Linked DNA regions of Homo sapiens: region 1 is reported to be linked to region 2. The links are microRNA targets in miRTarBase. Many come from high-throughput screens and were not tested one by one. Region 2 holds a microRNA gene; the other region holds the end of a gene's coding sequence.

Region 1 (3,000 bases), not on the chromosome of region 2:
TGCCTCCCAGGTTCAAGCAATTCTCCTGCCTCAGCCTCCCAAGTAGCTGGGATTACAGGTGTGAGCCACCGTGCCCAGCTCTGACTAAGCTTTTATTTAGCCAGCCACTTGTGGCTTAAACCTCCTCATCCCCTTGAGTGGGCTCCATCAAAAAGTAGTCTCAGGCTGGGCACGGGGCTCACTCCTGTAATCCCAGCACTTTGGGAGGCCGAGGCGGGTGGGTCACTTGAGGTCAGGAGTCCGAGACCAGCCTGGCCAACATGGCAAAACCCTGTTTCTACTAAAACAAATACAAAAAAATTAGCCAGGCATGGTAGTGCGTGCCTGTAATCCCACCACTCTGGAGGCTGAGACACGAGAATTGCTTGAACCTGGGAGGCAGAGGCTGCAGTGAGCCAAAATCACGCCACTGCACTCTAGCCTTGGTGATGGAGTGAGACTCTGCCTCAAAAAAAAAAAAAAGGTGGGGGCACCTGGGCACGGTGGCTCACGCCTGTAATCCCAGGACTTTGGGAGGCCAAGGCAAGTGAATCACCTGAGCTCAGGAGTTCGACACCAGACTGGCCAACATGGTGAAACCCCATCTCTACTAAAAATACAAAAATTAGCTAGATGTGGTGACGGGCGCCTGTAATCCCCACTACTAGGGAGGCTGAGGCAGGAGAATCACTTGAACTGGGAATGCAGAGATTCTAGTAAGCTGAGATCGCGCCACTGCACTCCAGCCTGGGCAACAAGAGCGAAACTCCATCTCAAAAAAAAAAAAAAAGTCATAGGGAAGCGTATTAGTAATACAGTGAATGAAGCTGGACTATTCATTGCACTTAAAGTGAAAAGTGCTACAGATTATGAAATAATTACTAAAACATACAGCCACACTGTTTCCATAACTGCAGAAGATGGGACTTTGTAGCATATAAAAACAATAAAATAGAGGGAACACTTCATTAGGCAAACAAAAGAATTAGGACCTATAAAAATTTGCACTTTTTTTCCTGGATTTTTTTTTTTTTTTGTCAACCTACTCACCAAAAAATTTGCACTTTGACTCATATTGGCCTATTTTAACATTTCAAAATCATTTAAAGAAAAATATGACTTTTTCTGTCATAATTCCCAGTCTTAGTCTCTATCTTTGATCAAAAAGAGGATAGGGCAATACATTAAATTGACAAGGCATATAACAGCCACTGAATCTTTCTGTTCATGAGAAGAAATCCCAGATACACCATAAATGAGATGCAAACCAGCAGTAAGAATGATGGCAAGGTTTCTGTATTTCCATCAGAAATTGTGGAAAAGGGCCTAAAACCAGGAAAGACAAGGCCATTAAAAAAATGTATTTGAGGCCGGGTGCGGTGGCTGACACCTGTAATCCCAGCACTTTGGGAGGCCAAGGCGGGCGGATCACGAAGTCAAGAAATCGAGACTATCCTTGCCAACATGGCGAAACCCTGTCTCTACTAGAAATACAAAAAATTAGCTGGGCGTGGTGGTGCATGCCTGTAGTCCCAGCTACTCAGGAGGCTGAGGCAGGAGAATCGCTTGAACCAGGGAGGTGGAGGTTGCAGTGACCCGAGATCATGCCACTGCACTCCAGCTGGTGACAAAGCAAGACTCCATCTTAATATATATATATAATTTGAGACGGTGTCTCGCTCTGTCACCCAGGCTGGAGTGCAGTGATCATGATCATAGCTCATTGCAGCCTTAAATTCCTGGACTCAAGTGATCCTCCTGCCTCAACCTCCCAAGTATCTAGGGCTACAGGTGTGCACCACCATGCCCTGCTAATTCTTTTATTTTTTAGAGACAAGGTCTTGCTAGGATGGTCTCAAACTCCTGGCTTCAAGCAGTCGCCTCTCCTCGGCCTCCCAAAGTGTTGGGATTACAGGCATAAGCCACTACGCCTGGCCAGAAAAAGCCAAAAAAAAAAAAAAAATTAGGGCTGGGTGAGGTGGCTGATGCCTGTAAACCCAGCACTCTGGGAGGTCAAGGCGGATGGATTGCTTGATCCAGGAGTTGGAGACCAACCTGGGCAATGTGGCAAAACCTCATCTCTACAAAAAATATTTTAAAAAAATAAATAAATAAGTAAAATAGAAGTTTGACATGAAAGTATATAATATAAAAAAATCCAACTCCGGAAAACCAGAATACAACTCACCAAATGTTTTGCTTCTCCACCAACGTAACAATTTATAAAGCAAGAGATGAGAAAAAGAGATTATTGGGAAATGTACTGAATAATGAGGAGTCTGGGGAATAGAACAAAAGTTGTAAGTCGTAACCTGACCCATCTTACTTCACTGGTAATCAAGTACAGTCGAAAGGATGAAATAAAGAAGTGAGTAGTTTAAAAACTCTGTTGGACCAGCACCTTGAATCAAATGGATGTTTTAGGGTTCTGTTTCCCACTGAACCAAGAATTGTATCCCTCCATCTCTCCTTGAGGAGAGGCCCTATGTTAGACCTTGGCTACTCATCATTAAGATAAAATCTTAATAGATAAAACTGGAATTCCTTGAATCCATGAAAAGACAGTGTTCATTAAGGGTTTGTGCAGTGGATGCTCCTTATGTCCCATGGTAGAATAAGATCTCCTTAGCTCCGCCAAGTTAAAGGCTCTTGCAAGGGCACTTAGAGATGTTGCCTCTTCATGAAGATTTCATGTAGGTAATCCCAAAATTTCGTCTGCTCTGTTTCATTGTTGTGGATCATGGCAGTGAGAGCTTCCCCCTGGTCCAGACCTTGCCAATAATCTTGCAGCCACATCTCTTTCCAACTGAAATATCAAAATGGGGGTTGGATTATGGAACTGCAGCATAGTTATGAGTCCTGCCTTTTTCCGAGTGGGGCCAAAGAAATCTTAAGCAGATACAGTGGTCTCTAACTTGGACAAGACTGCTGTGAAAGGAAGACAAAGTGAAGTAAATCCAATATAAGCCCAAGCGACAGGCAGTAAGTCACAAACACAAAGACATCACACAGACTACCCAA
Region 2 (3,151 bases):
TATCTGAAAAGGAACAAATGCTTGTTCCTTACTTAGGGTTAGTGACAATGGAAAACAGATAGAAGTAGAAGCTACAGACCCATTTAGGGGCCCCAGCCCCCTGCTCCTCCCCCTTCCTGGCTAAGGAAAGCATGAGCCTATGAGAGAGAAATCCTAGGAAGAACAAGACAGTTGAGACAATGTAGCAGCAGTAGTGGGTGCTGTGTCCTACACTGGATTCGTGGTCTCCTAATAGAAAATCTCTCAGAGGAAATGGGTCCACAGGGACCTGAGAGCTCTAAACAGCTATGAAATCTGCCAGGATATTTCTGTCCATGCTATCTGCATCAGTGAGTTTAAAATGTAATAGGAGAAAAAAAAGAGACAAAACATTAACATAATAATTGATACAGCATAGTTTTGTACAAAGAAACCTAAATCCAAATACTTGACTCAGTATTTTGAAGCTAGTATTTTAAACTTTACTGGGTAAAGTATCTGATTGACATTTCTGAACCTTATTTTTCTCATCCACAATGTGGGAGTGATAATATTTTCCTTGCAGAGTTATTGACAGAATTTGAATAATCTTGGTATATAGACAGTGCCTTACACGTAGTATATAAATATATAAGAAAACACTGCAGTTATGTTTATAATGGATTTATTAAAAAGAATGGATCATATTATATGAAAAGTACATTTGTTTTCCTTAGCCCTTTAGTGATTTAGGAGATTCAAGCGTAGACGTAAAAGTGAGTTTCTTTTCATATGTTAACTGGAGGATTTTTTTCTTTCTTGAGAGGCTGAGATTGGGTTGCTAAGAGAACTCTTAGGACAAGAAGTTGTAATATTTGACTTCGGTTTTTAACTCTCTAAGGGGTATATTCCCTCCTTATGTCCCATAAATTTTAAGTCAAGGTGAATTATATGCAACAGCAGTTTATCCATATTTACTTTGGGGAGGAGGTGGGGAGACTCCGGGAGAAAATAATTATAAATGCAGACTGGGAATTAGTAAGTGCAGGGAATCTGAACCAGTGGTGATCATGAAAACGTCCATCACAGAACACAGAGGATTTTTAGGGCAATGAAACTACTCTATTTGATACCACAATGGTGAATAAATATCATTATGCGCTTGCCCAAATCCATAGAATGTACAACACCAAGAATGAACCTTAATATAAACTATGGACTTTGGGTGATAATGATGTGTCAGTGTAAGTTCATAAGTTGTAGCAAATGTACCTCTGTCATGAAGGATGTTACTAGTGGGGGAGGCTATGCATGTGTGGGAACAGAGAGCATATGGGATACATCTATCTGTACTCTACAATTTTTCTGGGAACCTAAAACTTCTCTAAAATAAACTCTATTAAAAAAAAAGAAAAGAAAAGGTCAACAATAATGATCCCAAATATATAAAATTAAAACTGTAGTATAAAAATGGTCACATGAAAATGCATGAATGTGCTAAGAACTTTTCTGCAATAGGATTTAAAATAAATTTTATATAAATTTCAATGATTCATGAGCCAAGAACCCAGCATTCTGGAGGTGTGTGCATTTGTGTGTGTGTGTGTGTGTGTGTGTGTGTGTGTGTGTGTGTAAGGCTTACATTGAATGGCATTATAACCAGAGTCATACAGAAATACACAAATGCTCCCCTATTTAGAATCCTTCCCCAAGAAATACTGAGGAAAGCAAATATAATGGTAGTTGGATTTTACTGAAAGAATGTATTCAAAAAGTATTTATATAATGTTAAAATAGCATAGCTAAAATTAGTTTTATAAAATAGAGCAAATATATCTTTTTATCAGCTAAAAGTTCAAAGTGAAATCATCATTATTATATTATTATATTATTATTATAAACAGTTATAAATCAGGCTGCATGATTTTAAATTAAATGATTCTTAAAAATTGTTATCTGAATTATTTCAGATTACATACATAAAGTATGACTTCATTAATAGGTAATATCACATTGTTTAAATTTTACAAAATTTCCAGTCACAATGGTTCATGCCTGTAATCTCAGCACAAGGTGAGGGTCCCTTAAAGCCCAGGAGATGGAGACCAGTCTGTAGTCCCAGCTAGTAGGGAGGCTGAGGCAGGAGGATTGCTGCTTGAGCCCAGGAGTTCGAGGCTGCAGTGAGCTAGGACTGACTGCACCACTGCACTCGCTCCAGCCTGGGCAACACAGCGAGACCCCGTCTCTAAAAATAAATAAATAAATGAATAAATAAATAAAAATTACAAAACGTAAAAATCACGTAAAATATTTCAGGTTTGTACTTACCACATACAAACTAGAGATATGAAGAATTAAACATTACAAATAAAGCACTTCACACACAGTCTGGCCCATAGTAAGCAGTTTATAGAAGTTAACAAATTTGTGTTATTGTTATTTTCTGGAGTCCAAGACAAAATCCCATGATGAATGACACCACAAGGATGTAAGCAACAAAATTCAGAATATGAGAAGTTCTACTAGATTAAATAAAAAGATTTCTCCAGCAAACAATTTGCAAAAAAAGTTAAAAATAGAGAAAAGAAAAGCTATACACTTGAAAAAGACTGAAGAAATATAGTAACCAAACGCTGAGCTTTGTCTAGATTCATATTCAAACAAAACATCTGTTAAAAAATTTATATGAGGCAATCAGAAAAATTGACACTGAGTGTATTAAGGAATTATTTATCTCGTTTTAAATGTGTTAGTGGCATTGCTGTTATGTTTCTAAAAAGCCATTATATTTTAGATTTTCATAATAAAAATGTATAAATGAAATATGATACCTAAAAATATCTTCAAAATAATCCAGTATGTGCCTGTATGATAACTGGGTGGGTTTACAAAATTGCTCATGAATTGATTATTGTTAAAGCAAGGCTGTTGATACATGGAATTCTTCTCTGTACTATTGCACACAGTTGAAATTTTCTGTAATACAAAGGTTTTTTTTTTAAATGTATTCAGGAAAGTCCCATAAACATAGGCAGACAAGCATTCTGTTTGAAGTTATGTTAGTTTTTCAGTTTTTCTCATTTTTATCACATTTAGGAAACCCTGTCCAAGGCCTGCCCAAGACTGTAAGAACCTCTCAGGAATGCAACTATAAAGAATGTGTATGCAGGAACTAATAATAACAAAGGAAAGC

Evidence for each region. The annotated mature microRNA hsa-miR-3135b reads GGCUGGAGCGAGUGCAGUGGUG and lies in region 2 at 2,157-2,178, opposite strand. An mRNA with a match to its seed (bases 2 to 7 or 8) in the 3' UTR can be bound and repressed. Matches are read on the target gene's strand: a 7mer-m8 pairs with bases 2 to 8, a 7mer-A1 pairs with bases 2 to 7 and ends in A, and an 8mer does both.
Region 1: the mRNA of POFUT4 is a reported target of hsa-miR-3135b. The part of its 3' UTR that is shown has no 7-base or 8-base seed match.

Annotation. Positions count from the first base shown.
Region 1 is chr10:73,775,326-73,778,325 of GRCh38, reverse strand. It overlaps POFUT4 (protein O-fucosyltransferase 4), which reads right to left. Exons shown (of 3, transcript NM_173540.3): 3 at 2,107-2,785. The coding sequence ends at 2,641. Among named protein-coding and RNA genes, the nearest start is that of POFUT4, 4.6 kb to the right of the region's middle.
Region 2 is chr6:32,747,796-32,750,946 of GRCh38, forward strand. It overlaps MIR3135B (microRNA 3135b), which reads right to left and starts at 2,184; the gene lies at 2,117-2,184.